Regions from separate parts of the Homo sapiens genome. Here all the other regions are linked to region 1. Evidence: fine-mapped QTL for protein levels in blood plasma. A gene starts in region 1. Each other region holds a variant in brackets. All regions are shown on one strand. Distances are from middle to middle. Region 1 holds the start of INHBB (inhibin subunit beta B). Region 2 overlaps LOC105373585 (a long non-coding RNA gene). Region 3 has its middle 7.1 kb from the start of LINC01101. Region 4 has its middle 120 kb from the start of LINC01101.

Evidence for each region. PIP is the chance, under the fine-mapping model, that this variant and not a neighbour inherited with it causes the effect. The UK Biobank Pharma Proteomics Project read protein levels with antibody pairs (Olink). The fine-mapping took linkage between variants from a reference panel, not from the people measured, so its PIPs are less certain.
Region 2: its variant is fine-mapped to the plasma level of the INHBB protein (UK Biobank, PIP above 0.99).
Region 3: its variant is fine-mapped to the plasma level of the INHBB protein (UK Biobank, PIP 0.92).
Region 4: its variant is fine-mapped to the plasma level of the INHBB protein (UK Biobank, PIP above 0.99).

The regions. Positions count from the first base shown.
Region 1 is chr2:120,343,085-120,351,185 of GRCh38, forward strand. INHBB (inhibin subunit beta B) reads left to right here and starts at 3,052. Exons shown (of 2, transcript NM_002193.4): 1 at 3,052-3,552; 2 at 6,015-8,101. The coding sequence starts at 3,105. The coding sequence ends at 6,790. It overlaps LOC105373989 (putative cuticle collagen 91), which reads left to right. Exons shown (of 3, transcript XM_047446882.1): 2 at 838-943; 3 at 1,803-2,909. The coding sequence ends at 2,830. RefSeq lists a cis regulatory region at 204-694.
Region 2 is chr2:120,544,578-120,552,678 of GRCh38, forward strand. LOC105373585 (a long non-coding RNA gene) reads right to left here. Exons shown (of 4, transcript XR_001739681.3): 3 at 7,311-8,101; 4 at 1-2,182. Among named protein-coding and RNA genes, the nearest start is that of LINC01101, 82 kb to the left of the region's middle. RefSeq lists enhancers at 1-133, 7,286-7,435. The variant G/A (reference allele first, on the strand shown) is at 4,287.
Region 3 is chr2:120,455,186-120,463,286 of GRCh38, forward strand. No RefSeq gene overlaps it. Among named protein-coding and RNA genes, the nearest start is that of LINC01101, 7.1 kb to the right of the region's middle. RefSeq lists an enhancer at 1,572-2,133. The variant G/A (reference allele first, on the strand shown) is at 4,807.
Region 4 is chr2:120,585,261-120,593,361 of GRCh38, forward strand. No RefSeq gene overlaps it. Among named protein-coding and RNA genes, the nearest start is that of LINC01101, 120 kb to the left of the region's middle. RefSeq lists an enhancer at 2,864-3,757. The variant G/C (reference allele first, on the strand shown) is at 4,776.

The sequences.
Region 1 (8,101 bases):
GAGGAGATAACAGCCAGGCACTGGGCTGAGAGCCTCACTCAGGTAAAAAACTATACAGGGCACAACCGGGTCAGGGAAGGCTTCGCCAAGGAGGAGAGACTGGGCTGACTCTGAGAGCCTGAGAATGAGTTTGTCAAGTAGCTGGTGGCTGTGGTGACGGAGACAGCCGGGTGGGCAGATGCAAGCAAAACCAGGAGGTGGCCAGCCTGGCTCAAGGCCACCATGCAGGAGGTGCTTCCCAGGAGGCAGAAGCTCCCGGGCCACAGGCTCCCAGGCAGGGCAAGGGCAACCTGATGGGAGAGCAGAGACTCTGGCCCTGGTGGAGATTCTAAGGAGGCAGAAGGGCTGCCATCTCGGGGATCCTCCTGGATCCCTGCTTCTGACTTCGGTCGGCAAACTCACACCCGCCCTAGTTTTGCCCGCCAGCTTCGGGTCGGTTCCTCCGATTGGGAGGGAGGGGGCGCTCGGCTTCCAGACTTGCAGGCCGCCGCGGGCCTGCGGTCCCGGCCGAGCTCCACGGTGGCAGGGCTGGCCCGAGAGACTGGCGGTGGGAGGCGGGGGCAGGAGGCCACGCTCCGCCTCCGACGTCCCCGATTCCCCAATATCCTGGGAAAGCCAGGATGAACTCCCATCGTGCTTCTGCCTTGAGTCTAGCCCGTTGCGAGGGAACGGGGTACGGCTCCGTGTCCTGTGGGCATTGTCATGCGGCCCCAGACCCGGGTGGGGGCGTGAAGAAGGACAGAGGAGCGCATTGCACTTGGGGCCCCGGACGGGTCTGAAAGTCAAGTTTCCACTGACAGTGTTCCTTGTCCGGTGGCCTGAGAACGGTGACCCTAGAACCATCCTTTATCGGGTTGTGTGAAGAGCCTGGCCCAGTTGCCTCGCTGGGCCTCCCACCCAGCCCCTGTGATACAGGTGTTACTGTCCCTTCACAGAAGAAGAGGTAGGCGATAGGAAAGGTGAGGACTCTATCCAAGGTCACTCCTGCAAAGCTGGCAGTGGCTGAGCCCGAGTGGAACCCGGGTCTGAGTGAAGCCAAAGTTTGTCTGCTGGCGAAAGTGGGAATTCCCTGGGGGTGGGGGTGGGGGTGGGGTACTGTAGACCCTGCCAGCCCCTCAAGCCCTGAGGCTCAGTGGCCTCCGGGCCGCGCGCCTGGGATCCCGCACAATCGGGGCGTTCCTCCTGGCCCAGCAGACGCAGCCGCTGGCCAGGCCTCCAGTGGCTACTGCCTTCCCGCCCTCCAGCTCGCAGGGTCCACGCCTCGGCCAGTGCGACGGCGGCCCGGGGAGCTGGGTGAGGGCACTGCAGCCCCAGAGCGGCAGCCGCCGGCGGAGCCTGCCTCTGGCATCCCAGGCCGCGCCGCACCCCGCTCGCCTCGCCAGGCTCGGCCGCGAGGGAGCGCCCCGGGAGGGCCGGGGGCGGCCACGGCGGCGGGAGTCGCCTCTGCTGGTTGGGGAGGGCGGCAGCTGGGACAGAGGCAGGGCCTGCGCGGCGGCGGGGAGGCGGGAGTGGGCCGGGAGGAGCGCCTGGGTCCAGCGCCTGGAACCCGTCGGTGCCGCCGGCCGCCCAGCTGGGCAAGGGTCCGGGGCGCCCACGTGGTGGGAAAGTTTCGAGGTAGCAAAAGTAGCCCGGCATTGCGGGGGGTGGGAGGGGAGAGGAGGGGAGGGGAGAGGGCCGGCTCGCCCCTCCTTCTCGGGAAGGCAGAAAGGAAAAAAGCGGTGGGAAGCAGGGGTGAGCGCGGGGAGCGGGCAGCCCCAACCTGAACAGATTCCGCTTTCTCCTCCTCCCCCCACCCCGGGAAGCTCGAGCGGGGAGGTACGGACCGTCTCCTCTCGCACGGGCAGGACGACACCCTCCCTCCCCCCCTTTTTTCTGCCAACGTCTATCTCAACGCGCGCGCACATACGGAGATTGTGCGGCTTTTTTCCCCCTTGGGAGAAAAAACGGGGAGAGTAAAAGAAGAGAGACCAAAGAGAAGAACTCCTCCTCGGCGAGCTCCGCACTCCGTGCCGCGGCCCGGCGCGGGGACGCCGCCGCCGCCCGCCCGCTCTCTCCCGGCCCTGCGGCGGGTGCCAGTACGAGCGCGAGCGAGGGCACTGCACCCGGGGACGCTGCGAGACTTTTCGGCGCTCGAGCCGACCTCGCCGCCGCCGCGGCAGGCAGAAGAGACAGGAGCGAGAAGGGCCCTGCCTCCCCCTCGCCTTCCTCGCCCGGCGCCCCGCGCCCGGCCGGGCCGCGCAGGCAGGCGGAGGGAAGGAGGGAGGCTGCGAGGAGGCGGGCGGAGCAGAGGCCCCGGCGAAGCGCGCTGCGGCCGCCCGCCCGTGGATGCGGCGCCCAGGGATCCTGGAGACAACTTTGCCGTGTGACGCGCCGGGAGGACTGCAGGGCCCGCGGCCGAGGGCTCGGCGCCGCCTGTGAGCGGGCCCGCGCGGCCGGCTCTCCCGGGCACCAAGCTTGCTCCGCGCCACTGCCCGCCGGCCCGCGGCGAGGACGACCTGCCCGTCTCCGCCGCCGGCGGCCCTTCCTGGCGCGAGGCAGTGAGGGCGAGGCGCTCAGGTGCGAGCGCGGGGCCCCGCCGCAGCGCCCGCCGCAGCGCCGCGCCAAGCCGCGCCCGGCTCCGCTCCGGGGGGCTCCAGCGCCTTCGCTTCCGTCTCAGCCAAGTTGCGTGGACCCGCTCTTTCGCCACCTTCCCCAGCCGCCGGCCGAACCGCCGCTCCCACTGACGCTGCTTTCGCTTCACCCGAACCGGGGCTGCGGGGCCCCCGACGCGGAAAGGATGGGGAGAAGGCTGCAGATGCCGAGGCGCCCCGAGACGCCCGTGCGGCAGTGACCCGCGACCTCCGCCCCGCCCGGCGCGCCCCTCGGGCCCCCGGGGCCCTCGGCGCCCCTTCCCTGCCGCGCGGGAACCCCCGAGGCCCGGCCGGCCCCCTCCCCCTGCGAGCCGGCGGCAGCCCTCCCGGCGGGCGGGCGGGCGGAGGCCCGGGCGGGCGCGGGCGCGGGCGGGGGCGGGGCGGGGCGGCGCGCCCGGAGCCCGGAGCCCGGCCCTGCGCTCGGCTCGACTCGGCTCGCCTCGCGGCGGGCGCCCTCGTCGCCAGCGGCGCACCATGGACGGGCTGCCCGGTCGGGCGCTGGGGGCCGCCTGCCTTCTGCTGCTGGCGGCCGGCTGGCTGGGGCCTGAGGCCTGGGGCTCACCCACGCCCCCGCCGACGCCTGCCGCGCCGCCGCCACCCCCGCCACCCGGATCCCCGGGTGGCTCGCAGGACACCTGTACGTCGTGCGGCGGCTTCCGGCGGCCAGAGGAGCTCGGCCGAGTGGACGGCGACTTCCTGGAGGCGGTGAAGCGGCACATCTTGAGCCGCCTGCAGATGCGGGGCCGGCCCAACATCACGCACGCCGTGCCTAAGGCCGCCATGGTCACGGCCCTGCGCAAGCTGCACGCGGGCAAGGTGCGCGAGGACGGCCGCGTGGAGATCCCGCACCTCGACGGCCACGCCAGCCCGGGCGCCGACGGCCAGGAGCGCGTTTCCGAAATCATCAGCTTCGCCGAGACAGGTGGGTCCGGCCCTCCGGCTGTCTGCCGCGGTCCCCGCTCGCTCCCGCTCTCCCTCTCCTTGCTAGCTCCGGCTGCCACCGCCGCCACCGCAGCCCGCGCGCCCTGGGGCAGCCTGGACTCCCGGCAGAGCTCCTTCGGCCGTGGCCCTGCGCGCTCCGCCCGGGTTGCAGTCCTCTTCCCCCAGGCCGCAGACCCTTGCCTGCTGCCTCAACCCCCCGCCGCCGATCGCCTGGCCCTCCACCCCTGCTCTCCGGAATCGGGCCCCAGCGCCTCTGGGCGCGCGTCCCCCTCCCGGCAGATGCGCGCGGCCCTGGCTCTGCGGGCACTTGCTTGGTGATTGCTTAATGTTTTTGTTTCCCACGATCGGAGTGTAGGCTTAGCAGTGTGGATGGAGATGTGTGTGCTTGTTGATATACGTGGGCCGGAGGAGAGAGAGAGTGTGTGTGTATCTGTGTGTGTGTCTGTGTGTGTGTGTGCCTGCGTGAGAGGCCCCTGGGGCCGCTTCCATCACCGGCGGCGTGGGCTTGCCAGGATTGCTGAAGCCTCGCTGGGGAGAGCTAGGCAACCTCTCTTCCGATTGTGTGGGCACCGGAATCGGGCGGAAGGCAGGCTTCTCAACAGGTCCATCATTTACACAGAGAAAGCCGCGGTTCGGGGACAGCCCCGTGCCTCTCGGCTTGCCTGGCAGCTGCAGCAGACCCCTCGCCCGAGAGGCAGAGTCGTAGTTAACAAAGGGTATGGCTCCTTTCTGGAATCCGCCCCCCCCCCCGGCCCCAGATTGCAAATCTCTAACACTGTCTAAATATAAAAATCAGGGAGAGAAAAATCTTTCGGAACTTTAAAAGAAGGAGAAAAATGTGCCCGCGCCAAAATGCTGCAAGTGCTTTCGACTCCGCTGTCCTTTTCAGGACTTGAATGAGCCAGGCTGGCTTTTGTGCCTGGAGCTCGGCCCCATTTGTGCCGAGGGGACTGCGGAGAAGGTCGCAGAGGGGGAAGCCCCGGTGCAGTTAGGGCGGGGGCAAGCGGGGAGCCTCGGTGGGGGGAGCGGTTGTGCCCCTGGCTGCAAATGCCCCCCACCCCACCAGGCAGCAGGCAGCCCGGGGATGAAAAGGGATGAAAAGTTTTGCATGGCCGGGTGTGGAGAAAAGCAGAGACAATCGGGGCTGGTTTGTGCTTAGAAAGAAATGCATTGCCGTTTTAGCTGTCCACTAAAGTGAGTCAGGGAAAGCTCGCCATGCAATTAGAGGGCTCGGATTAAAAGGTGCTTTGGGGCCCAGAGTTAGAAATGTGATTCTGGAAGGTCGAGGAGGCCTTTTGGTCCCGGTGGCACAAAATGACAGCGGGGGCTGTTATATTTCTGGTCCGTTTCACGGAGCCAGCTCTTTGACTTATAAATAACAGATTCAGGTCACAGGCAGCTCGTCCAAGACCAGCTTTTAAGGCTGCAGTTTCCCCCATTTCAAAGTCAGATGTCAGTGTTATTAGAGGAGCCAGGCGAGGCCTGAGGTAGGGGCTTGGGAGGGGCATGGTGGGAGGTTTGATAAAACCAGCCCTGACCACAGAGTTTCATTATTTGTTCTTCCTGAAAAAAAAAAAAAAAAAAAAAAGGAAAGAAAAACGTAGATTGTCAGAGGCAAGGGTCACCGGAATGTAGGATGAGAGGGGAGTCATCTCTTGATTGGCACAGCCTCCTTCTTGTTGAGCTGAATTATTGAGAAAATTAACTAGCCAGCTCCCCTACTCCTTGGGGATTTTGAACGTGCCATTAACAGGGAGCCAGAGTCTTGTCAAAGGATTGGACCTCAAGTTTTAAGGCTGAATGTCCTGTCCCTTGAAACTATTCTATAAGGGCTAGGCTCTGCAGCCTGCAAAGCACACGTTCCTATGTCAGAAACCTGAGCAGAGCCTGCTTGTTTGCAGTGGAGGTTCCACTGGGGGTTGGATCACATCATACTTAGGTAAACACTGGAAAGAGGCGGTAGGTGGCTCAGCTTGATTTTGCAATGCGCTAAGTTAACCAAAAAAAAAAAAAAAAAAAAAAGCCCTACTAAAACCACCCACCCCAAAATCCTCCCTGCGATCCTGGTTTTGTTTTTCAGATTTCACAGATACCCATAACAACTTGTTAAGATCTTGGCCCCCTGACAAGTTCTTCTGTTGTGCTTTGAGGCCTGACAGCCTGTCTCCAGGGAGCCCTGGCCTGGGAGAGGTGAGGCAGGATTTTATAGGCGCGGACCCTCCAGCCCCAGCCTGGTCCGGGTTTCTCAATGAGAAACGATTTTCTCTGCCTCTCCCAGGTTACAGTCAGAGGCCCTGGCCCCAAGAATGGTATTTCTGGTCAGTAACGTTTTCCAGCTGTGTGGCGAGTTGCATTCCAGCATCCTGCAGCAGAGAGTGTGTTTCCCCCATTGCCTTGTGTTCTCCTTGAATTAACTTGGCTCGCCCTTCCCCTTTTCCGCAGATGGCCTCGCCTCCTCCCGGGTCCGCCTATACTTCTTCATCTCCAACGAAGGCAACCAGAACCTGTTTGTGGTCCAGGCCAGCCTGTGGCTTTACCTGAAACTCCTGCCCTACGTCCTGGAGAAGGGCAGCCGGCGGAAGGTGCGGGTCAAAGTGTACTTCCAGGAGCAGGGCCACGGTGACAGGTGGAACATGGTGGAGAAGAGGGTGGACCTCAAGCGCAGCGGCTGGCATACCTTCCCACTCACGGAGGCCATCCAGGCCTTGTTTGAGCGGGGCGAGCGGCGACTCAACCTAGACGTGCAGTGTGACAGCTGCCAGGAGCTGGCCGTGGTGCCGGTGTTCGTGGACCCAGGCGAAGAGTCGCACCGGCCCTTTGTGGTGGTGCAGGCTCGGCTGGGCGACAGCAGGCACCGCATTCGCAAGCGAGGCCTGGAGTGCGATGGCCGGACCAACCTCTGTTGCAGGCAACAGTTCTTCATTGACTTCCGCCTCATCGGCTGGAACGACTGGATCATAGCACCCACCGGCTACTACGGGAACTACTGTGAGGGCAGCTGCCCAGCCTACCTGGCAGGGGTCCCCGGCTCTGCCTCCTCCTTCCACACGGCTGTGGTGAACCAGTACCGCATGCGGGGTCTGAACCCCGGCACGGTGAACTCCTGCTGCATTCCCACCAAGCTGAGCACCATGTCCATGCTGTACTTCGATGATGAGTACAACATCGTCAAGCGGGACGTGCCCAACATGATTGTGGAGGAGTGCGGCTGCGCCTGACAGTGCAAGGCAGGGGCACGGTGGTGGGGCACGGAGGGCAGTCCCGGGTGGGCTTCTTCCAGCCCCCGCGGGAACGGGGGTACACGGTGGGCTGAGTACAGTCATTCTGTTGGGCTGTGGAGATAGTGCCAGGGTGCGGCCTGAGATATTTTTCTACAGCTTCATAGAGCAACCAGTCAAAACCAGAGCGAGAACCCTCAACTGACATGAAATACTTTAAAATGCACACGTAGCCACGCACAGCCAGACGCATCCTGCCACCCACACAGCAGCCTCCAGGATACCAGCAAATGGATGCGGTGACAAATGGCAGCTTAGCTACAAATGCCTGTCAGTCGGAGAGAATGGGGTGAGCAGCCACCATTCCCACCAGCTGGCCCGGCCACTCTGAATTGCGCCTTCCGAGCACACATAAAAGCACAAAGACAGAGACGCAGAGAGAGAGAGAGAGCCACGGAGAGGAAAAGCAGATGCAGGGGTGGGGAGCGCAGCTCGGCGGAGGCTGCGTGTGCCCCGTGGCTTTTACCAGGCCTGCTCTGCCTGGCTCGATGTCTGCTTCTTCCCCAGCCTGGGATCCTTCGTGCTTCAAGGCCTGGGGAGCCTGTCCTTCCATGCCCTTGTCGAGGGAAAGAGACCCAGAAAGGACACAACCCGTCAGAGACCTGGGAGCAGGGGCAATGACCGTTTGACTGTTTGTGGCTTGGGCCTCTGACATGACTTATGTGTGTGTGTGTTTTTGGGGTGGGGAGGGAGGGAGAGAAGAGGGGGCTAAATTTGATGCTTTAACTGATCTCCAACAGTTGACAGGTCATCCTTGCCAGTTGTATAACTGAAAAAGGACTTTTCTACCAGGTATGACCTTTTAAGTGAAAATCTGAATTGTTCTAAATGGAAAGAAAAAAAGTTGCAATCTGTGCCCTTCATTGGGGACATTCCTCTAGGACTGGTTTGGGGACGGGTGGGAATGACCCCTAGGCAAGGGGATGAGACCGCAGGAGGAAATGGCGGGGAGGAGGCATTCTTGAACTGCTGAGGATGGGGGGTGTCCCCTCAGCGGAGGCCAAGGGAGGGGAGCAGCCTAGTTGGTCTTGGAGAGATGGGGAAGGCTTTCAGCTGATTTGCAGAAGTTGCCCATGTGGGCCCCAGCCATCAGGGCTGGCCGTGGACGTGGCCCCTGCCCACTCACCTGCCCGCCTGCCCGCCCGCCCGCATAGCACTTGCAGACCTGCCTGAACGCACATGACATAGCACTTGCCGATCTGCGTGTGTCCAGAAGTGGCCCTTGGCCGAGCGCCGAACTCGCTCGCCCTC
Region 2 (8,101 bases), 200 kb after region 1:
AGGCAAGAGGGGCTTCAGCAAAGACGCAGGGGTAGGAACATTCCTGGAACACTTAAAAGAGAGAGAGGGAAAGCCTGGTTAGGAATGGGGTCCCGTTGGTGAGCATGGGCCAGGAGAGAGGCTTACCATCTTGGAAACTTCCGTATCACTCCGCTGGGCCTGTGGACCCTGAACATGTGGCTCCCGTGCCTCCCCAGGCCTGAATCAGCTCTGCCTGAGGCTCCCCGCACTGTTTCCCCACTGGACCTTTCACGCATGGGTGTAATTATTTGTTAAATGAGGGCCAACTGCACTGGACCCCACGCTCGTTGAGAAAGGAGTAGATGCTGCTCTGTGTTTCTGAACCTCCCTTAGTGCCTGACATTATGGAAGGAAGAAAGAAGAGCTCACTCCTCAGGAGTTACACTTTTTTAGCATGGGATTCAAGTAGCTGATTCCTTAAGCTACCAGCAATTTCATCTTGAAAAATGACCTAATTCTCTAGTTTCCCATTAATTTAGACTGGCTTTCTCTTTGATAGAACAAAAGAGAGCCGCACCTCGTCAGAAGAGTGACTGCAGATGCACGAAATGAGTGGGCCTTTCTGCCTATGGGTGACATCATCTTAAAGCTTTAGAAAAGTCACAGACGTGGCCGGGTGCGGTGGCTCACACCTGTCATCCCAGCACTTTGGGAGGCCGAGGCAGATGGATCACGAGGTCAGGAGTTCGAGACCAACCTGGCCAACATAGTGAAACCCCATCTCTACTAAAAATACAAAAATTAACTGGGCGTGGTGGCGCATGCCTGGAGTCCCAGCTACTCAGAAGGCTGAGGCAGGAGAATCACTTGAACCCAGGAAGCAGAGGTTGCAGTAAGCCAAGATCCTGCCACTGCACTTCAGCCCGGTTACCGAGCAAGACTCCATCTCAAAAAAAAAAAAAAAAAAAAAGAAAAGTCACAGACGTTATGCTCCTTCGGTAGTGGTAGTGTAAGCGATGAGATCTGGCAAGGGCAAAGAGGATGACTGGATGGATTATAATAAGGCAGATAAATGTGGAAGATAAGACCCCAGACCCTAGCGTCTTTCCAGCTCTGAAATGCCTTCGTTCTCAGTGAGGCTGGTTGAACAACTATGTTGTTGATTCAGGTTGGTTTCACATACCTCTGAGAGGAGAAGAAAGAAATATTTCTGGGCTGTTTGGTGAATGCGTTTCATGGATAGAGAGAGGGCAAAGAGGGACAACCTTTACAGATTATATATTGGCTTAAGTCTACTCACCACCAAGCAATTGGCTAAAGATGTCAAGTTTTCCTGGTTCGGTTTTCAAAGTTACATTGCAGAACAAACATTTAAATTCCTGGTGGATTGTCTCCCGGTTTCCCTCCAGATGTTTGGTGTGGTGTAGATATCACAGTAAATAAATGTGTTTAAAAGTCTAATAAATTAGGCTAGAGGGTGTGTGGGGGAGGGGGGTGCTATTTTGCTGTGGCCCTGGGACAAAGACACAGTGGGGATCAAGAGGTTCCTTGCACCTTCGGCTTGGTAGGTATGGCGGGGAGTGCTGTCAGCAGGCTCGGGAGCAGTGAGGTGGTGTGGTGAGGAATGCACCGGAGAGGCTGACACTGCCCGAGCTGTCAGAATTCACATTGCCGGAAATGCAGGAATGAGTGGAGAGGGGGCTGCGGGGGTGTGTGTACGTGGGAATGTGCAGAAAGACAGTGCGTGTCCTCGTTGGCGGCGGCCGTGGCTGGGCTGGAACTGAACAGGGCGGGAGGCAGGGCCCAATCCTGGAATCCACTTGTCAATCCCTGGCTCCAGATGTCTGCACTGGGGGATTGGGGCTGCCTGGATGGGGAAACTGACAAGCTGTGGTTACGTCACCGTCCAAAGGCCTGATTGACTCATGCCGCCCACTAGATGCCTTTTATGACTTGTGGCGCTGGGGCCAAACGAATTTGCACGGTCATGTGTTACTGAGCAGTTGAGGGGGAAAAAAGTCGCTTTTGGTGGTTTTAACTGTGAGATTAAACATTCTTCAGGAGGACAGCAGAAAAACAGGCTGGGAGATTAAACGAAACAAACCCAGCTGTGTTTGGGGAGTTGAACGCTTCTCTTCCAGTCTCCTACTCTCAGAACAAGATCAGGTGAGGCGCAAGACATCTTCTCTGGGAAGGTCCCTCTCTGCTGGGGAGGCAGAAGCTGCAATAAAAATGACACACACTGATGAAGGTTGGGACCTGGGGAATGTGCCCATCTGCCGCGGGAGCTGCCTCTGTTGTGCTGCCGTCTAGCTGTTTCCCAGGGTCATTTGCCAGCTTTGATATCCCAGAGGGAGTTATTTAAGTTGCCACCTTTGAGACAGGTGAACTGTCGCCTCATTTATGACTGACTGAGCCCCAAGCTAAGGTGCCTGTCGATCAGGATCACTTTTTCATACACCCAGGGCCTGTGGCTGAGCATAAGTGTGTCAAACACCTGTAGGCCAGAGCTGACTGCCCGAGGGAGATGCTGATCGGGCAGGCCTGGGCTTCATGAGTTTAGCCTGCCTTCTGGTAGCTAGAACCTGCCACTCTGCAGCTGGGAAAACTGAGGCCCAGAAGGAATCAGGCCTTACTCTAAGAACCACTACATAATGGGCGATCCAGACTTTGGACCTGGAAGCAAAACTGACACTGCCCTACTCACTAGCCATGCGACAATTGGTTAATCCTTCTAAGTCCATTTTCCCATCTGTTAAACGGGGGTGATGATGATACTAGCATCTTCTTGGGGCTTTCCTGTGAAAGTTCAATAAAGATTCATATGTAATGGGTGATTTTCTGAGAAAAATTCGCATCTTAGCCTTTTTACTGTTAATGAATTGTTCTCTGGGGCAGCTGGGCATCTGAGTCCCATGCTCCAGCCCCTAACAGCCTGTGGGTTTAAGGGCTTTAGGGTTTTGGGACCCAAAAAGGATAATTCAACCATGGAATCCCAAAAAGACAAGAAATGGAGGCTTTGGTATACCAAATGAGAGAGAGAGAGAGAGACAGAGAATATGTGTAGCTCAGCTCTATGGGGCTGATGAGGAAGGAGGACAGAGATATAACAGGATGGGCCATGGGACCTGGGACTTCCAAATCCATAGCCACTCAAGTGGCCCAACCTATGGTGGAAAAGACCACCTTGGTACCTGGGACTCATGAGTCCAACCAAGGAGGCCCCATAGCCTGCATGAGGTCCCTCTAGCTGGCTGGCTTCAAGGAAGTGTGGCCAACAGCAGGAGATGCCCTTCACAGCAGGGGCAAAGCTGAGCTGGGCAGGAGGCCAGGCTGGCAAACCTTACCCCAAAGATGCCTGCCAAACATGCCCAGAGAGGGGACACCACTGCCCACTATGCAGCAGAGCTTCCTAATATGCCTTAGGGCTTACGCAGGGAGGGAGGGAGCATCAGTGAATGACTGACATTGTCATGTTTGCCCAGCTGTATCAATGGGGAGAAGGTCTGGAAACAGATATAATGGATTAGATAAATCGATGTGACATTTCTTACATTCAAGCATCATGGATAAATTCACCTCAGAGTCTAGGACACACTAGCCTAGGTATGCCCTGCAAATGACTATTAATAAAGGACTGTTAAAAATGGACTGGCAACTGGGTGCAGTGGCTCATGCCTGTAATCCCAGCACTTTGGGAGGCTGAGGCAGATCACCTGAGGTCAAGAGTTCGAGACCAGCCTGGTGAACATGGCGAAACCCCGCCTCTACTAAAAATACAAAAATTAGCCAGGCGTGGTAGTGGGTGCCTGTAATCCCATCTGCTTGAGAGGCTGTGGCAGGAGCATCGCTTGAACCCGGGAGGTGGAGGTTGCAGTGAGCTGAGATCATGCCACTGCACTCCAGCCTAGGTGACAGAGTGAGACTCCATCTCAAAAAAAAAAACCAAAAAACAAACAACAAACAAACAAACAGAAATTGTAGTCATGCACAACCCTTAGGCTGCTTCTAGTTTCGGTTGATGAGTGTAGCTCCTGTCAAAGTTTGAAGTGAGCGAGGGCTAGCTTCTTCTCCAAACCTCACAACGACGTGAGAACGGAAGCAGTCTCTCCAAATTCTGCCACATGGAGACATTTAGAAAACAAGCATTCATTCACGAGGAGCCCCAAATGGCTGTATAAACTCCTGAGTGCCACTGGTGGAATCCGGGCCCTCTGCCCTTTGAGGAGCTCCTACTCACTTGCATGTGCTTATCTGCAACAAATACAATGTTCCTGGCAGGACTTCTTTGTCCCCACAGGCCTCTTACTCAACATTAGGCAAAT[G/A]GAAGTCCTCCCAGGTGAAGGACTACACCCAGGACTGACAGGCATCAAGCTTCGGGCAGCAACGCCACAGGGCAGAGCCTCCAGGCCTCACTGGCTTCCTACACAGTTCTTGCAGCCCTGCGAAGTGTCTCTAAATCACACAGGCCTTGAGTACCTCGACTTTCACCAAATGGAAGCTTATTTCTCATGTCATCATGCTGCTTAACAGGCAACTATTTTTACCAAAAAGAAAACACACCCTCGAACACCCATTTCTGACATTCTCTATGATTGTTGGCCAAGTGTGGGGTGTCGATGGAGAAAACAGAAGTGGGTACAGTCATCATTCTGGTGTGGGGGCTTCCTCATGAGATTGCCACGCCCACCTGGCCTGGGACGTGTGGTCAGTGACTCGCAGCACCCACCTGTGGCTTAATTTTTTTTTTTTTTTTGAGACAGGATCTTGCTCTGTTGCCCAGACTGGAGTGCAATGGTGCAATCCTAGTTCACTGCAGTCTTGAACACCTGGGCTCAAGCCATCCTCCCACCTCAGCCTCCCAACTGGCTGGGACTACAAGCATGTGCCACCATGCCTGGCTGATTTTTAGATTTTTTTTTTAGAGACAGGGTCTTGCTATGTTGCCCAGGCTGGTCTCAAACTCCTGGGCTCAAGCAGTCCTCCCATCTCGGCTTCCCAAAGTGCCGGGATTGTAGGCGTGAACCACTGTGCCTGGACTGTGGCTTAACTTAAGTGGCATTCTCCAAGTATCACATTGGAGCAGGCCCTCCAAATGTGAGGCAGAAGTGGAACTAGAGCTCTGGGCCTGAGCTGGTGGTCCCTTAATTAAAATATAAAATAAGTTAGGAAACAATGCCAGGTTCCTTTTCTTTTGGTATCTTACTGCTCCCAATTAGCTTACGAGCTTCTTAGGAACAGGGCCAAGATTTTCAGCCACATAATGCTAGATGCATTGTATTTTCTCTTTCTTGAAATATTTATTAAGTGGCTCTTTGGATAGTGGAAAAGTTGGCTGAAAAGACATTTTGGGAAATGAAGGCCTCGATGGCCAGGTTCAAGAATCTGGATTGCATTCAGGGGAGCCAGGAAACCAATGAACCCTTTTGAGAAGGGAAGTGGCTTGATCAAAGGGATGCTCAACAAGGAGCACTTAGCTGACCAAGCAACCATCCAAGGGCACCCAAGTCCACGCACGAAGTCATGCTTCTCCCTGGCCGTGCTTCAGTCAAGCTGTTGATTAAGAACAGGGGCTACGGCATATCTATTGTATGCCAGGCACTCTGCTAGGAGTCTCAATTCCCAAGGCATCTGAGTGAACCATCCTCTTCCCATTTTCCAGAAGAGGAAGCCAAGGCTGAGAATGAGGAGTGACGTGCTCAGAATCACACAACAGGAAGGGTGGAGAATCTCTGCCTGGCACAAAGTGCTTCTTTCTATGTTCTGCCTCGACTTGTCCCCAACCCAAGGGATTCTGAGCTGCTCTGGAGGTATCTGGAATAAGAAGAGACAGATGCAGAGCAGGACAGTTCCAGCTCTTTCTTGGGAACAGCAGTACAGAATGCGAAATGCTTTCAAGCAATAAAACCCGTTATCTGTGCAGAAACCCATCTGTGCTAAGGAGAATTCCGCAGGGATTATTGTCCCCTGGAGACAGGAGAAGCCATTTGGTGGGCTAAAGCATCAAGACAAGACCTTGGCTGATTATAAGTCACATTAGACAATTACATTCTTAGCTCCTGGGAGTAATGATGGCTGGATTTGCTCTGATTTCTTCTTGTTGCAAAATAATGCCTGTTTAGGATATTTTGGCCTTCTGTGTAATAAACCTGTGTATTGGATTGAGTCGAAATATTTGGCACATTAAAAATTACTTTCAGTCAAGGTTTTTTAAAAGCCCCATTTTTCTGTCCACATTCTCCTTCATTCCAGAGACCCTAAATGTACTCTATGTGGAGACTGATTAGTCATCCCGGGTGTAGGACCAGCTCTGGGGCAAACAATTAGGGTTTTCATTTTACTCTTTCATACCCACCATGTTGTGAGTGGGGAAGAAAAGCAGGACTGAGGGATGTTATGGCTCAGGCTAGCTATGTGTGCCCTCTTTATCTCTGACCTTGGGAAGCCCACACACTGCAAAGAGGCCAGCAGGGATCTGGGGACAGGCAGACTTGGATTCTGATCTCTGCCCTGCCTCTTCCTAAACCTGTGACCTTGGGCAAGTTGCTCAACCTCTCTGAGGACTGATCTGTTTCTCTGTAAAACAGGGCAACTAATTGAATTCTTAGGGGATTAAACGAGGCAATGGATACAAAAGCATTGTGACTGTTCAGGAAATGTTAACATGTGGCTGGTAGTTGACAACTTCACTGTTGAGGAGTTCCCAGTCCCCAGCCACAGAGACAAGATTAGCAGAGATTATCTCTCATGGGGCAGAGGAGAATATGGGGGGAAATATGGGCTTTGGGGTCACCCAGACCTAACTTGTGCTCTCCTATCTCTTTGTCCTGAGCCGTTACAATAGCTCTCAGTGCCTCTCTTTTCTTATCTGCAAAATGGGCTTATCATAATACATGCCTGGCAAAATGTGTTAAGATAGCTCATGCCTGAGAGCCAGGTTTATATTAAGACTTTATTGGATGGCGACAAAACTGGTGCCCAGCAAGGGGGCCTGCCAGATAATTCATCAGGGTCCCAGGCATTATCCATGGACAGAATATATTCTCTCACACGCACTTGTCTGCATGGTTTTGAAATGTAAACAGAGGCTATTGCAATAAATGAAATAAATTCTTGCCAAGACACTAGTGAATTCATTTCCTCTCAGCCAATGGATTCTAAGAGGCCGAAAAGGAGAAGTGAAAATTTTGTTTTAGCACTACATAAGGCTTCTCGTACTTGCAGCCAAAGAGGTCAGAGATTTGGTCCCAAGACCAACTTAGAGTCATGTGTGACACTGGGATTCAGAGGCTAGTTGTGGGCCACAGGGAGGAAGCTGACCCCTGGGCTCACCCAGCCCACCCACTCACCAGCTCTCCTTTCCTTCCTGGGTCCCTTGGGGAGGAGAAGCCATCCACCTCATGGAAAGTGCTTTAGAGGCTCCTCTGTGGGTGCCCTACTCTGCACCCTTTGCGGGGACTCTCTGCTTCAGTTCGCAGGACAACCTTAATAGCTAACTGCAGAGAGGACTGAATGGTTAAGTAGCTCCTCCAAGGAAGCAGAGCCAAGTATCAGAGGCCGGTTTCCATCCAGGGATTGAGAGAAGAATCAGGAGCACATAGGCTGTGGCAGTAAAAAGCAGATCCCAAAGACAGTATAGGGCGGCTCGAAAGGGGCCTTCCTACATAGCCACCACCACGTGCTCCGGCGCTACCTCCAGGGGGCTGGGCGCAGCTGGAGGACACAGTTCGGCAGCTTGCTAGAAGCCTCCAGCTCTTCCTTTTCTGTATCCTTCAGGTGACTGTGGAAGGCTGGCCGTGCAGCCTGCCATCAGCCTGGCCTCAGCCGGGGAGGGGGACCTTTCTCCTGGAGGCCACAGAAACACTGAGGACCTCTCAGCTGAGAAGGTCAGATGGAGGTGCTGGATGATTGGAGGAGATCAAACTGATGAGGAAAACGCAAATGGCATCCTTCAGGAGCAAAAGCTGTCTCCTCTTTTACTTCACATGTCCACCCAGCAGCTCTATGAGTTCTGATTCAGCATTGCACTTACCACCCACCCTCCCCGCCTTTTACAGAAAAGGAAACTGAGGCTCCGAGGTTGCGGAGTTGCTTGCTCCAGCTGATGACAAAGGCAGGTAAAGCCAGGGCTAGAGTCCCT
Region 3 (8,101 bases), 110 kb after region 1:
ACACTGAAGGAGGTGAGGAACGAGGAGGCAACCTCAGTAACGTTGGAAAATAGTGTTTTGTTTGACAACAGTAAGGCTAAGTAAAAAAGGACTGTTCACAAACACTGCCTTCTAGTTGGTAAATTTGTTTCTCACGGGGGTACAAATTAGCATTCTGAAACTACTGTACATGTATGCTAGGGTTGAACAAATAAGTAAATCTATTGTAGATATTGAAAGCCAGGTGTCTCATTTCAGAGAAATAACCTACAAATAATCAAAAGGAGAATGCTATAATGAATCCCGTGATGTTGGATTGGATAATGAATTCTGTACATACACAGATGCACAGAGAGAGAGAGAGACAGAAATAAATGTAAACACATGTGTGTATGTGGGTTAGTGTATAAACATGTGTTTCCTAACTCTGTCCACTATGAGGGCCTAGAAGCCATTGCAATGAGCACATGTAGCCCACAGTCCTTGGTTTCTAAATACAATTCTCCAGTAAAAGCTACCAGGGCTCCTTGAAGAAGTGGTTGACTTCAGGGTTGAGGCAGAAAAAATATAGTACTGAAAAAAAAAAGAGTGCATATAAAAAGAACACAGGAGACAGGAGGGGCTTCAGATCCTCCTGTAGAGGAAAATGGGGTAGAGGTACTTGCCCAATTCCTCCTGCTAAGTATAACAAAAAACCCTGGACATGATATGTAAAACAAACATAAAAGGATTCTGAAATGTGGAGAGGTGGCAGACTGTCCAGGGACCTCTGGATGACATGGTGGTAAGTCCCATGGATTTTTTATTTTTTTCCTCATATATCTCAGACTTGGAGATAAAGAGCCTTCCAGCCCAGAAACCCTAACTGGCACAGTAAAAAAAAAAAAAAAAAAAAGCCCCTCTAGCCAAAGGATCAGAAAAGGGGCCAACTAACAAGACAAACTTGTTTTCTATTTTTCTTTTCTGGTTTTTTTTTTTTTTTGAGATGGAGTCTTGCTCTGTCACCCAGGCTGGAGTGCAATGGCGCAGTCTCGGCTCACTCAACCTCTGCCTCCCGGGTTCAAGCAATTCTCCCGCCTCAGCCTCCTGAGTAGCTGGGATTACAGGTGCCCACCACCATACCTGGCTAACTTTTGTATTTTTAGTAGAGATGGGGTTTCACTATGTTAGCCAGGCTGGTCTTGAACTCCTGACCACATGATCCACCCGCCTTGGCCTCCCAAAGTCCTGGGATTACAGCTGTGAGCCACTATGCCTGGCCTGTTTTTTATTTTTCTTATTTATTTATCTTACTTGTATTTTAAGTTCAGGGGTACATGCGCAGAATGTGCAGGTTTATTACATAGGTAAATGTGTGTCATGGGTGTTTGTTGTACATATTATTTCATCACCCAGGTATTAAGTCTAGTGTCCATTAGTTATTTTTCCTGATCTTCTCCCTCCTCCCACCCTCCACCCTCCAAACACTCACACCCAGTGTGTGTCATTCCCCTCTGTGTATCCACGTGTTCTCATCATTTAACTCTCATGTATAAGTGAGAACATGCAATATCTGGTTTAAGATGAAAAAATTTTCAACGGTAACCCCCTACTCCAGCCAAACATCACAGAAGGAAAATGTGGTTCCGTCTCCAGCCCTCTAGCAAAGGCCAAGGGGCCTTCAGACTAGCAGTCTTGCAAGGCTGTAATAAGGCACCCCAACATTCTCTCTGAGTGGTGTTAGAGAAGGTCTAGTGAGGGTGGGGACTTTCGTCCCCACTCATCCATAAAGAGATGCCTCACTTTCTTCCCCTTCCCCACACTGGGGTGATGCAAGAGGATGCCTACTGGAAATTCATGGCTTTCACATTCTCCATGACAATGATGCCACCATCACCTCAGTAGCAGTGGAGACCTCATGGGACACAGAACTCCCACTCCACCACTGGAGGCCAAGGGAGGAACCTGGACTTCTATCTCCACCTGGTGGTAACAAGGTATTGCCCCCTACTGTTGCTGATAGAGTGGTGTCAGAGAAAGCCAACTAAAACAAATGGTTTAAAAACCAGGAAGATCTCAGATGAGTGACAAAAGACATTCAATAGATACCAACACCAAGATGACAGAGACGTTAGAATAATCTGACAAAGATTTTAAAGCAGCCATGGTAAAAATGCTTCAATAAGCAATTACAAACACAGTTGAAACAAATTTAAAGATGGCAAGCCTCAGCAAAGAAATAAAGGTATAAAAAAGAGCCAAATGGAAAATTTTCAAACTCAAAAAGTGAATAACTGAAATTTAAAAACTCAGTGGATGAGCTCAACAGTAGAATGGAAGTGGCAGAGGAAAGAATCAGTGAACTTAATGGTAGAACCTATCTGCATAATGGAGACAAAATAGACTAAAGAAACAAAAAATACAGAGCCTCGAGAACCTGTGGGACTATATGGAAGTTCTAACATTTTTGTCATTGGAATTCCAGAAAAAAAAGAGCAAGAGGATGGGGCTGAAAAAATTACTCAAAGAAATAATGGCTAAAAACTGCTCAGGTTTATCAAAAGACAAGTCTGCAGAATCAAGAAGATGACAAAATCCTTGTCATAGACAGAATGTGTGTTTCCCAAACTTCGTGTGTTGAAACCCTGCCTCCTAACATGATGGTATTAGGTGGTAGGGCTTTGGGGAGCTAATTAAGATTAGATGAGGTCATGAGGGCAGCACCACTATGAATGGGATTAGTGTCCTTACAAGTGTTCTGCAAGAGCTTGCTTTCTCTCTCTGAGTAACATGTGAAGACATAGTGAGAAGACTGCTGTCTATGAGCCAGGAAGCAGGCCCTCAGTAGACACTGAATCTGCTGGTGCCCTGGTCTTGGACTTCTCAGCTTCTGTAACGGTGAGAAACAAATTGTTGTTTAAGCCACCCAGTATGTAGTATTTTGTTATAACATCCTGAGCTACTAAGACAACCTCAAATTGAAAAAAAAAAATCAATGCCAGTTGTAATTAAATTTCTGAAAACTAAAGACAAAAAAAAGTTGAAAGCAGTCAGGGGAAAAATGACACCTTAACTATAGAGGAAAAACAATTTGAATGACAGTAGAATTACCATCAGAAACTATAGAAGCCAGAAGTGGCATAATATATTTTAAGTGCTACAAGAAAAGAACTGTCAACCCATAATTCTATACCCAGTGAAAATATCCTTCAGGAATAAAGGGGAAATCAAGACATTTCTGGATGAAGAAAAACTAAAAGAATTTGTCATCAGCACATCTACCCTAAAAGAATGGCTAAAGGAATTTCTCTAAACAGAAAGAAAATGATAAAGTAAAGAATCTTGAAACATCAGGAAGGAAGAACATAGTAAACAAAAACATGAATAAATATAATGAACTTTCTTTCTCCTCTTGTGTTTTCTAAATTATGCTTGATGATGGAAGCAAAACTATAACATTGTCCGGTATTGTTCTAAATGTATTTAGAGGAAAAATTTAAGACATTTACAAACAGGATGTAAAGAAAAGTAAGGTCTCTATACTTCACTCAAACTGATAAAACGATGATACAAATAGATGGTGATGAGTTATGTATATAAAATGTAATACCTACAGGAACTATTAACGTTGCTATACAAAAAGATACATACTCAAAAACACTATATGTAAATCAAAATGGAATTGTAAAAAATGTTCCAGTGACCCAGGAACTTTTTTTTCATTCCAGGAATGATGGTAATAGAAAACACACATCTGAGAAACAGAGTATTAACAGAGAACAGAAATAAAATGATGGAATGAAGTCCAAAATATTAATAATTACATTAAATATAAAAGATCTAAATACAGCCATTAAAAAAACAGAGATTGGTAGAGTGGATTATAAAGCACAACTCAGCTATGTGTTATAGGCAAGAAACTCCCTAATAATAATGATACAGGTAAGTTAAAAGTAAAAGAATGCAAAAGCATAAATCATGAAAGCATTTATCATGGGAAAGTAGGAGTGGCTATATTAGTATCAGATAAAGTATTTCAGAGCAAAGAATATTTCCAGACACAGAGAGGGATATTACATAGTGATAAAAAGTTCAATACACCAAAAACGCATCGCAATCTTAAACATGCATAGCAATGGAGCTGCAAAATAAGTGAAACAAAAACAACTGAAAGAAGAAAAAGACAAATCTACAATTATAGTTGGAGATTTCAACACTCCCTCACTAAACAATGGATAGAACAACTAAACAGAAAATCAGCAAGAATAACTCAATGACACTATCAACCAATAGGATTCAACTGACGTTTATAAAACACACCACCTAAAGGCAGCAGAATACATATTATTTTTTAATGCTCAAGGAATATATGTCAAGATAGATTACACCCTGGACCATAAAACAAACCTCAACAAATTTAAAATAATTCAAATCCTACAGAATGTCTCCTCCAATGGCAATGGAATCAAATTAGAAAGCAATAAATAATTCATGAGAACATCTCAATGGGGAGTAAAAGTGCTGGCTCCCCACTGGGCCTTCTCTGATACCACCCAGTGGGGTATTGAGGCTCCTCCGTATAGCTTGGGTGGAAATCTAGGCTCCCACTCAGCTATTGATGATGGGTTTGGGGTGGGGCCACACTTTTTCTTTGTTGTTTGACTAGAATGGAGTGGTTATTGACTAAAAGTTTTCTGTCTTGCTAGGCTTCTCCCTTGTATTTCCTTTGGGGCATGTGTTAGGCCGTTCTTGCATTGCTCTAAAGGAATACCTGCAGCTGGATAATTTATAAAGAAAAGAGGTTTAATCAGCTCACAGTTCCGAAGGCTGTGTAGAAAGCATGGCACC[G/A]ATACCTGCTCACTCCTGAGGAGGCCTCAGGAAGCTTCCAATGATGGCAGCAGGCGAACAGGGAGCCATGGTGGCATCTCACATGGTGGGAGTGGGAGCAAGAGAGAGTGAGTGAGGGGGAGGTGACACACACCTTTAAACAACCAGATCTCGTGAGAATTCACTCGCTATCATGAAGACAACACCAAGGGGATGGTGTTACAGCATTCATGAGATAGATTCTGCCTCCATGACCCAGTCACCTGTTTCCATCAGGCCTTACCTCCAGCATTGGGGATTGCAATTCCACCTGAGATTTGGCAAGGACACAGATCCAAACTGTATCAGGGCTTTTTTCTTTTTTCCATCTGTGTTCATTGGTGTTTCTGGGTTGCTGGCTTGTTTAGCTCCAAGTCTGGAATTTATAAGGCAAAAGAAAACCCAGGCAATTCACCACCATCTTGTTTCTTGGGTTCCGAGGTCCCAAGCCAGTGCACCTACTTCTTTTCACCTTTCAGAAGTGAAATTCTTGGTCTGCTGTATTTTGAGCAGTTCTCTAAGTAACGCCGATTTCACTGAAATTCGAGGACTACTGAATTTGCATCTGAGTCCCATGTTCCCTGGGTCAAGGCCTGAGTCTCCCGTGTTTACAACACATGCCCTGAGCAGAGCACAGGCGGTCCTGGTCAGTCCTCACAAGGGTCCCCCAAACCCTTGCAGGGTCTCCCAAGCAGCCTCGCCCATGCTCAGTGCTGCACACATTCAGCGGCTGACTCGCCCACTCCTCAGTCCCCTCCTGCTGAGCTTCTTCTTGTTTCCTCAAGCAAGAGCTCAGACTCTCCCCTGAGGCCTTCAGAAGGTGCTTGAAAGCTCTGCATCAAATGCACTGTGGAGAAACCCCTTTCTACTTCTCCCCAAAAAGCCAGCCCTCATCCCTCAGCCAGGGCCACTCCCTAGGCCCCAGCCTTCAGCCCAGCACCCCTCCTGTCTTCTGCGTCCTTTTGGTGCCTGTCTACCACCCACCTTTCCTGATAGAGGGAGGATGGGCCAGTCCGGGGAAAGCACAGCACTGCCCAGGCTCAGCCATTCAGCAAGCTCTGTGGAGGGAAGTGACTACTCCATGGGTCTTCTCTGTCCCAGGCTTTTAGTGAGTACAGCCTCACTGAATCCTCCCAATTCTTCAAAGATAGGACTCAATAGTGCCGATTAACAGAGGAGGAAATGGGGACTCAGGGAGGTTCAGTCACCTGCAAAGTTCACACAGCTGATGAGTGGCAGGTCTGAGACCAGGAGCCAGGTGGCCTGACTCAAGCCCAGGCTCTTCCACATATGAAACGTCCCAGATGTACTCTTCCCTTAGACACCCCAAGCCTCACCGAGGCTCTGAGTGTCAGTCTAGAGACCATGATCAGACCCCAAGGGACAGCAGGCACAGGCCCTGATCTGACCTAAGCCCTCTTGGTGGTAACCCTCGTTCTGGCCCATTTGGGCAGCAGAGGAGTACCCAGTAACTTGAAACGGAGAAGCAAGAAGCTGGCTGACATCAGATTTTCTGAGGGGCTTATGGGTTTCTATTTTCCCCTCATTTGAAAAGCCAAGTTGGGTTTATAGTTAGAACCACCCTTTCCTCTACAACACGATTAAGCTGCTTCAGAGAAAAATTGCTTTGTTTGGCCCTTGGATACCATTTCTTAGAAATGATGGTAGCAGATAATGTAGGTTCAGCAGACGTCCTGTCTCTGGTGCCTGGCTGGGTTTGGATGTGGGCCGAGAACTGGTGTGTCGTTGGTTTCCAGACCAAGCTGGTCCCGGCTGCTGTGGGTGAAGGCTTTAGCTAGGTGGGATTCTTAGGACTTGATTTAGTACATACCGAGTTGTTTGGGTCTTCAGAAAAAGAAATAAAAATAAAAAAGAGAGAGAGAAAGAGAAACATTTCCAGGATTTCAGTTATAGTCCTCATGTTAATGATACTAACGATAATGACAAACCAATTTTCACTGAGGTCCACAGTGTGCCAGGTCGCTCTAGCGTCTGTCTGCTGGTCGTGTGAAGTAGGCACTGTTATTGTCCCACCCATTTTACAGATGTAAAAGTGAAGGTCAAGAGCAACTTCAAAGTAGCCCTGTTTTCATTAAATGCTTCCGAAAATCAGATTCTTTTCTTAGTGTGAACTGCATACCCAGGAGAATAAATGGCACAGAGGTCGGTGTGGCTAGGAATGCAACAATGAATATGTGTTGAATGAGGGAAGGAATGAACTTGTTTCTTCTTTGTGATGAGCTTACATCTTTGACGTCATTTAGTTCAACTTTCCACTCAGTGTGAAAATCCTTTCTATAACACCCCTGGTGGGTGATCATCCACCTTGAATGCCTCCAGAGATGGGGAGCTCATTACCTCCCAAGGCAGCCCTTTCTACCCTTGGACAGCTTTAAGCCTCAGGAAGGACAAAGGTTTATTATTCTGAGCAGAACTCCGCCTCTCCATGCTGGGTAATGATTGGTTCCCATTCTACTCTTTGCTGTGGTCAAGCTTCTCTCAGTTCTGTAGATTTGTCCTAAAAATCAAAAGAGGCCTCCTCCTTCTCCTCCAGATTTTCCCTTTGGGGGACTTGAGTAAAGTCTGGCCAGAGAGGTGAGAGTCTGAGACCTGGACACAGAGTGGGTATTTGAAGGAAGGGGCTGTATGTTCAGCCTAAAGAAGCTAAATTGTCACAGAGGTGAGGGCGCATGAGTGGAGCCCTCAGCTATTTTTAAGGCATTGCAGATGCTTAATGAACAAATAGCAACAGCAATAATAACAAAAAGTAATTTACTGTGGTTCTGGGTGCCGGGCTGAAAGCTTTCCTCGTATCATCTCATTTGAACCCCTCAACAACCCTCTGGGGTGACTGTCAAACTCCCCACCTTACAGAGACAGGAACTGAACCCCCAGAAGCTCAATGCCCCCAGCTGGGATGCAGACCCCAGGGGATCTGGCTGGAGTCGCCCTTGTGCCCCCCACACCCCTGCTCTGTGGCTGACAGGTAGAAGCTGCAGGAAGACAGGCAAGTGTCTGCTTAACTGAAGCTCTTTCTAGAATGATAAATGGTGGGCAGGGAGAACCAGCTGCCTGGCAAGGAAGCGAGTGCCCAGGTGGCATCGCAGTTGGGAAGGACCTGTGGTGTGGACGGCCTTTGGGCCACATGAATCCAGTTGAATCTGATGGAAATTGAATTGCTGAGGCAGCCTTCGTGAGAAAAAAAGGAGGCTGAGGAGTGGTGTGTGTGGCTGTGGGGTGGGGTGGGGTGGGAGTGGTGCTTGCTATGAGTCTCCCG
Region 4 (8,101 bases), 240 kb after region 1:
GCATCTGGGGAAGGCCTCATGCTGCTTCCACTCATGGCAGAAGGCGAAGGGGAGCCATGCGTGCAGAGATCACATGGGGAGAGAGGAGGCTAGAAAGATGGGGGAGGGAGGTGCTTGCTGGACCCTTTTGAACAACCAGCTCTCACAGAAGCTAATAGAATGAGAACTCACACTGCTCCCCCGGCTGCCATCCCCCAATCTTCTGAGAGGGAGGGCATTAATCTATTCATAAGAGATCTGCCCCCGTGACCCAAATACCTTTCACTGGGGATCAATTTTCAACATGAGATATGCAGGCTGGGGGCGGCAGGGGAGATGCAAACAACCCAACTCTCACTACATGTCATTTGTCTGGTTCTACCAGTGTTAAAATAGTTTTTATTTTGGTCTGATATTTTACAAGGGAGTTTTCACATCAAAATCTGGATTTCGGGCCTCCCCTGAAAACGTATACCAATCTGGCAGCACTAGACCCTTATTCCTTCATGGACCAAGCAGCTGAGCCACTGCCCTTTAAAGGCCTGAGGATGGGACATATGGTCTGGGAGTCCTGAGGAGCCAACAGGACCCAGTGAACAGGCAGGTAATGGGAGCAGTGGCTGGTGGGCCCAGAGCCCTAGGGTAGGGGGTGAGGGGATGAGGCTGCAGCTGTGGCAGGGTGGGGCAGTTCCTGGGCTGCTGTTGTCACCCAGGCGAGAAGTCGTGGCAGAGGGAATGCGAGGGAGAGGCCTGGCTGGAGGGAATTTGGGACTTGAATCCACAGCCCACAGGGCTTGAGGACAGATGATGTGTGTGTGTGTGTGTGTGTGTGTGTGTGTGTGTGTGTGTGTGTGTGTTGGGGTGTGCAGGGGAGCCTAGCTGTTGGAGGAGGAGGTGAGGAAACACCCCAAGATGCTCACATAGAGAGGTAACTGCTCATGAACACGTAGACCAGATCCAGTCACCCTCCTGCTTAAAACCCAAGCACCCTACCTGAGAGGCCCGGCCCCTGCCCACCCCTTACCCGAGAGGCTGGGCCCCTGCCCACCTGGGTGATCCTTTGCTCTCACTCTGTGCTCCCTTGTACTCCAAGCCACGCAGCCCTTGGGCCATCCTAGAACCAGCCAAGGGCTTTTTTTTGGCCTCAGGGCCCTTGCACTCACTGTTCCCTCTGCCTGAGACACTGTTCCCCTGACTCCTTAGCTGGCCAGTTCCCTCCTCATCCTTCAGGTTTCCTCTTAAATATGCTCTCCTAAAAGAGGTCTGGAATAAGCTCCTAGAGGCCAAGGGACAGCAGGAATGCTGACTCCCACGGGGTCCCCGGGCCCATGGAAAGAGGAGTAGATTTCTGAGTGCAAAGGGAAACCTTTGAAGGGCTGGCGTGGGGGGTGGGGCGATGAAGCAGCTGGGTCTGATTTACCCCCTGAAAGCCTGCCAGTAGCACCCGCATGGGAAACCACAGGGCCGGAGTGGCCACTGGGGAGAGTTGGAGCCCTTGTGCTGGTGACAGGCGCAGAGGTAGTGCAAATGGAGAGAGGACATGGGGTATTCTGGAACCCACAGGACTTGCGGAAATGCGGGAAGGAGTGGGGTGAGAGCCATAGGCAACAGGAAAGAGTCAAGCGGGGTGGCGCTGTTTCCAGCCCCAGCAGGGGGTAGGAGGTGGTGCCAGTTTCCTACGGTGGAAACCCAAGGAAGGCACGAAGCAGGTGTGCTTTGGAAGGAACAGTTCTGGCGCAGCGCCTCTTCCTGTCGGCCCCCTTCTACAGTGCGCCTGGACACAGGGTGACGGCGCAGAGCTGCGCGGGCATCCCCAGCTCCGTGGCTCCGGCTCAGGTCGGCTGAGAGGCCTGGATCGAGGCACGCTGTCCCCGCGCCGCCCGCACTGCCAAGGGCAAGGGCACGGCCGTGACCGGGTAGGAGGCGGATCCCACCTGTGAGCCACTGAGCCACTCAGCCTCCGGGGAAGAGCGAAGATCAAAGCGGCACCCCACGTCGCGGGGCTGGGGAGGGAAGGGCATGAAGGCCTGTCCTCTGCGAGGCTTCAGGCGCCTGGAGGCAGGGTGGGAGGGCAGGGCGCGGGGGCTTTGTCTGCGCGGAAACGCCCTGCCCGGCGCCCGCACAAAGGCCGCTTTGTGCCCGCGGCCGGCGGAGGTGGGGGCCGCGCGTCCCCGGATCCCCCTGCCCCGGCCCGGCCCGCGGCCCCGAGGGGGCGCCCGCCACTTCGCCGCCGCCAGCCCGTGGCCCCGGGCGCCAAAGGGCCTCTTAATTGTTCCCAGAACGGGTGGCATTTAGGTCAATTAATATGCAAAACAGGAGTAAATCATCTCATTCGCGGGCCCCACGCGGGGCGGGGAGCCGAGGCATTTGCTAGGCAGCGAGGTCGCGGCCCCCGCCGCGTGTTTATCTGGGGAAATGGAAATCAGGCGACGCACAAAGCCGCCCCGCGGGCCGGGCCGCGCCCTCGGCCGCCCTCGGAGGGGTAGCCGGCGCCGGTCCCGACCTGCGGCCCGGGCTGGCAAGTCGGCTGCAAGCCTGGGGTCGCCTCTGGCCCTCTCTGGTCCACCGTGCCTAGCTGGTGATAGCAGGAGTTCTGTTATTACATAAATCAGGTATTGGGAGAATAATACGATTCCCTAAGTGCTTCTAATTGGAGCTTGCGTGCTCCTGACCCATTATTATGCTACTGAGCCTTGACTGAAGTCCAAAGCCTACTCGCATTCCTGCATTTAATCCTCAAAATCGCACTAAGAGGCAGGTGATTATTCCTATTGTTCAGCTGAAGAAACCGAGGCAGAGAGGTGAAGATCGTCACCTGGCCCAGACTAAGCCCTTCACCATTAAGGTGTGAGCCCCAGGCCTCTGTTATTTCACTGGGCAGCTCTCTTCGCTGGGGAAAATGGCCCCTGCAGGCAGAGTTCTGTGAGTCTCGCTACTACTGCACCATCCTTACTCATTCTCCCTGAATTCCAGAAATGTAACAGGACCCACTGTGCACCTGCACTCTTCTAGACTCAGACGGTTCCACAGGGAACAAAACAAGAGATTTTGGCCTCTTAGGACACCAGCGAGAGCACCTCCAGGAGAAGCCAGCAGGGCGACAGGAATGGCCCCTCGAAGGAGGTGACACCTGAGCAGAGACCTGAGGGAGGTGAGAGAGACTTCCAGGAAGAGGCAATGGTCTTGAGGCTGCAGCATAAGGAGGCCAGGGAGGGGGGTGTGTGGAGCAAAGCGGGAGGGATGGAGACAAGGCAGAGGTGGCCAGGGCTGGCACTGGGGGTGCCGGCTCTAGTTCCAGCTGGACACCGGAGTCTCTGGCTTCTCTTGGTCTGGGGACAGTCTGTGCATGGGGAATTGTAAAGGCTTCTGCTTGGCTCAGCCTGGTTCAAGTGGCCCCATCCTGGGCTAATTGGCAGTGGCTAGGGGCAGGTCACATACTGGACACACTCCCATCAGCTGGACACCCACCCCAATCGATACCCACTACGCAAGTAGACCCCAAACCTGGGCAGCAGGCAAAGTCAAGAGCAGTCCAGGGAGCCAGGGTCCAAAAGCTGGAGACATTTCTGAAGGTTGTCAATCTGTGAGGACAGACATGAGCCTGGAACTGAAGATTTGGATAACCCACGTGCACTGGGGCCAAGAGATAAGGGGCATCAGGTGTCCAGACGTGATGGAGGGATGGGAGGGAGAGGTAGGTGAACAGGGAGTGCTCAGAGCTAGGTGAGATATTTTAGCAAAATCACCAAACAGGAAAAGTTGAAGATGCTGGTCCCGTGCAGCTGCTTCTGTAGGAGTTCATGGGGACAGGGGTTACCAGAGGAGGGTTTGCAAATTTTTCCTATAGGATGCCCTCTCTATGGTGATGTACTTGGTCGTCAGTCAACTGCCTGGACAGCCCTGACTTTTCCCCTCTCTCCCCACCCTTGCCATGCGCTCATCAAGCCTGCCCATTCTTGCTCCTTAATGCCTCTCTCCCCAATCCCTTCCTTTCCATTTCTGTGGTTCTCTTTTGGTGAAGACTATCAATCATCTTTGGATCATTGCAGCGGCTTCCGCCCTGATCATGCTACTCTCACTCTTGCCTTCAATTCACACTCCAGATAGGGCACCACAGGAATCTTCCAAACACGTAAATCTAAGTTACCACCCTGGTTAAAACCTTCTATAATTAACACAACAACACAACCTGATTAAAAAATGGGGCAAAGGACTTAGGCATTTCTCCAAAGAAGATATACAAATGGCCAGCAAGCACGTGAAAAGACACCCATCACCCATCTTTAGGGAAACGCAAATCAAAACCACAATGAGATACCATTTCACACCCATTAAGATGGCTATTGCACAAATATGGTCCATTGCATAAATATATCTCTTCTCCTGTTGATGAACGTCTGGGCTCTTTCCAGTTTGGAGCTATTATGAATAAAGCTGCTGTATATTGGGAGACAATTCCCCATGAGTCTCTCGCATTTCTACACATCTTATGAGTAAGGCACTGATTGACCTATCTTTTCATGGGTGTTTGTATTGCAGACAGCTTTGGAAGATCAAGCGTCTCCCTCTGGAGCAAAGGGCAAGCACGCTTGCTTCCCATTGTAAAAGATCCAGGTTCCCTAAGCTCAGGGTTCCTCTCCTGTAATGCAATTCACTGCAAGTACAGGATCCATCTGGGCCCACTCACATTGTTCTGTGGGACTTGGGGCAAAAGGAACTGACGCAAATATGCTGATACACATGCTGTTTGCTGTGCTGTGAGGAATAACATCCTTTGTCTCTGACTCATGGTTCTG[G/C]CATCTTCTGCCAGCCTCTCAAGAGCCTAACTCATTACCTTTCAAGTTGAGTAAAATTTCAGACCCTTTATAGTTCTTGACATTAAGTGTTCTTATACAAGTGTTTCTGGGAACATATATTTTCCCACTTCTTCTTTGTCCTTCTCATCCTGCTGCCTGGAGTGCGGACCTGATGGCTAGAGCCCTGGTTACCATCTTGACCCATGAGGACCAGAGACGTAGTGGGTAGAAGGAGCATGGGTGTCCAAGGCTTTTGCAGGTCAGAGTGATCATATTGGCCCTGGAATTTTACAGGAGGGAAAATGCCTTGCTTACACCACTGTACCGTGGTGTTTTCCAACCCTATCTAATGCAACCCATGTCGTGGCTCATCCTGTCTGGGATGTTTTCCCGCCCTCCCTTCCTTTGTTCACTAATGTATATCATACTAACCTCAAGAATGACTCTTCATATTTCTAGTTCTTCCCACAATGATTGCTTCCTGTATCCTAGGGCCTTGTACAGTGTCTGGCACAGTAGTAGGTGCTCAGGAGGTAGGAGTTGATGAGGTGAACAAATACATAAAAGAAAAACGCAGGTTGGCAGAGATGATGGGAAAGCGGCATTCTCACTCAGAGGAACAGGTAGAGCATTAGGTTGTCGGGGAGGGAGCCCGAGCTATAGTCCTGTACCGGATGACACCACCGCAGCTCTTTCCTCTCTGGGCTCAGTTCTCTGGCTCTGCAGTGTGGGCTTTGGCTAGGATGATGAATGCCCATGGTCCCCACTGATTCTCAAGCCCTGTGCAAACTCTGAAATTTGAATACTGCTTTCCTGGCAATGCCTCCCTGCTTTTCTCTCCTGTAACTTATATTTGACCAGTGGCATCACTTGATGGCTGAGAAAGGTCCTACTCCTTGCTGGGCCCAGGACTGCTCTGCAACCCAAGCTTGGGGAGACATGGGTGCCTGGGCAGCTTAGCAGCTGGGGAGACTGACAGCTTTAGTGAGCCCAGCGGGTGGCATCAAGTTTCTGGGTGCCTGGTCACCATGTTAATCTGCTCTTGGTGCCACTAATACCAATTTGTGAGCAGACAGCCAGGATCAGACAGGCCAGCTGTCAGGCAACTGTGGACAGCTCAGTGTGTGGTTTGATTTTATGGCTTAGGGCTGGAATTATAAATTAATTAGCAAATTTAAGTTTCTGGAGCTGCTTCAGATAGGTAGCTCCCAGGGGCCAGGTGACACTAGTTTGACCCAGTGACCCCAGCCCAGGTCCTGCCACCCACCATTACCACCACCAAGGGAGTCAGAAAGAGTCCATCTTGTTTCCAGCACCACCACCACCCTGCTGGGGGACCCAGGTGGGCCCCTCTCCCTCTCTAGGCCCAGCCTCTTCATCTGTACACAAAGGAGCAGGACTGGATGCTTTTGTCTGTCTTCTCCACGCCAGCATTCTGGGATTCTAATTAGGCACAAGATGTCTAGCGTGTGGTAGAGCCAGCAAAGCTCTCTGTCCATGCTTCTGCCTCCAGGGCAGGTGGGACCACTTCCCCTGCTTTACCCCTGTAACCTTTACTGAGCTCCAGGGATCCTTGTTTCCAGAGAAGACAGGCAATAGAGTGGAGTGATCTAAAATTACACATGCAGCTGAGTCGCCCCTTCAGCCAATCTCCACCCTCCATCAGGGAGGTTTCCCAGTGTCCTGATGGCGGGGCGGGGTCTCCAGATGCCCCACTGGGCTACAGGCCCTGCCTGTCCTAGTGCTGCCTCTCATCCCCTCTCATCGCCCATGAACCCCGGCCACACCAGCTCCTCCCTAGTCCTCCTAAGGGCCAGCCGCCTTCCTGCCTGCCACAGGATCCTAGCATATGCCATTCCCTCTTCCTCCCCAGTGTACCCCCCCTTCCTCCAGCCTGTCGTCCTGCAGGCTAATGCCCCCTCCTTCAAGAAGCCTGACCTGACGCCCTATTCACTGCTCTCTGAGTGCCCTGCACTTTCCCTGGCACCCCTCATCACAGAGGGAAGCACTGACTCTTCGGGTCACTTGTTATTTCATGCTGTCCCCATCCCCCCTTCAGGACTGTGAGATCCATGGCAAAGGAGCACATCTGTTTTATTCACCAATTTTTTCAGAGCCTACTAGTGGTCTCCCAACATTTATTGTCTCCTCCTCTCTCCCAGTAAGAGATCTCTTGATTTTTAGCTTGGCCTGTGTTCACCCGAAATAAAGACCACAGCTCCCAGTACCTTTGCAGCAGGTTGTGACCACGTGATCAAGTTCCAGCCAACGGAGTCCGAATGAGCAGGCTGTGCGTGGCGCCTGGCTGTGCCTTTCCTCTTTCACCTCCTCCCGCTGGTGCAGGAGCATGAGCAGTGTAGGTGTGAGGTGTGCGGACCGTGCAAACAGGAGCTCGCTCCAGAAATGCAGAGCAACAGGTAGAGGGGCCTGAGCAATGCACCAGCTGTGGCTTTGACAAGCAAGGAGCCAGCCTATGTCTGGTTAGAGCCACTGTCATTCTAGCCCAGGTCATATAACTGCATCCTAAACCTAACTTGTATACCCCTACATCTGGTAGGCACCTGGTAAACATTTGCTGACCAAATGAGGGATTGAATGAATGAACGAGCAAAGTATTGGAAAACCAGAACTAATGATCCTAAGCTTCAAGCACATTTTGGATTCCAAGAGCTTTTATGGGCTGACCTGGGACCTAATAAACATTATTTGCTTGAAACATGGCCCAAGTCCTCCACAGATGGGCTTGTGTGTCCACAGACAGTGGCGGGCTTCATTGGCCCTGAGATGGGGCCTGTTGATCTTCTTCTTCCTGACACAGCCATAAGGCTCAGGGAGGCCCTTCCTGTGGCTAGCTGGCCCCCACCAAGTAGAAGGTGTCTCTTTATTTTTCTTTTCTTTTTTTTTTTTTTTTTTTTTGAGATGGAGTCTTGCTCTGTCACCCAGGCTGGAGTGTAGTGGCCCGATCTTGGCTCACTGCAACTTCCACCTCCCGGGTTCAAGTGATTCTCCTGCCTCAGCCTCCCAAGTAGCTGGGATTACAGGCACATGCCACCACACCTGGCTAATTTGTTGTATTTTTAGTATAGACAGGGTTTCACAGTGTTAACCAGGCTGGTCTCGATCTCCTGACCTCGTGATGCGCCCGCCTTGGCCTCCGAAAGTGCTGGAATTGCAGGCGTGAGCCCCCGCGCCTGGCCGAGGGTGTCTCTTTACCAGGGCTCCACCAAGCAGAAGCCCTACTAATGATGGCAAGGACGTGCCAAGGCCCTAAGAGTGAAAGCGAGACCAGATTTCATCCCAAGTTCTTTTTAGAAAGGTAGAAGTAT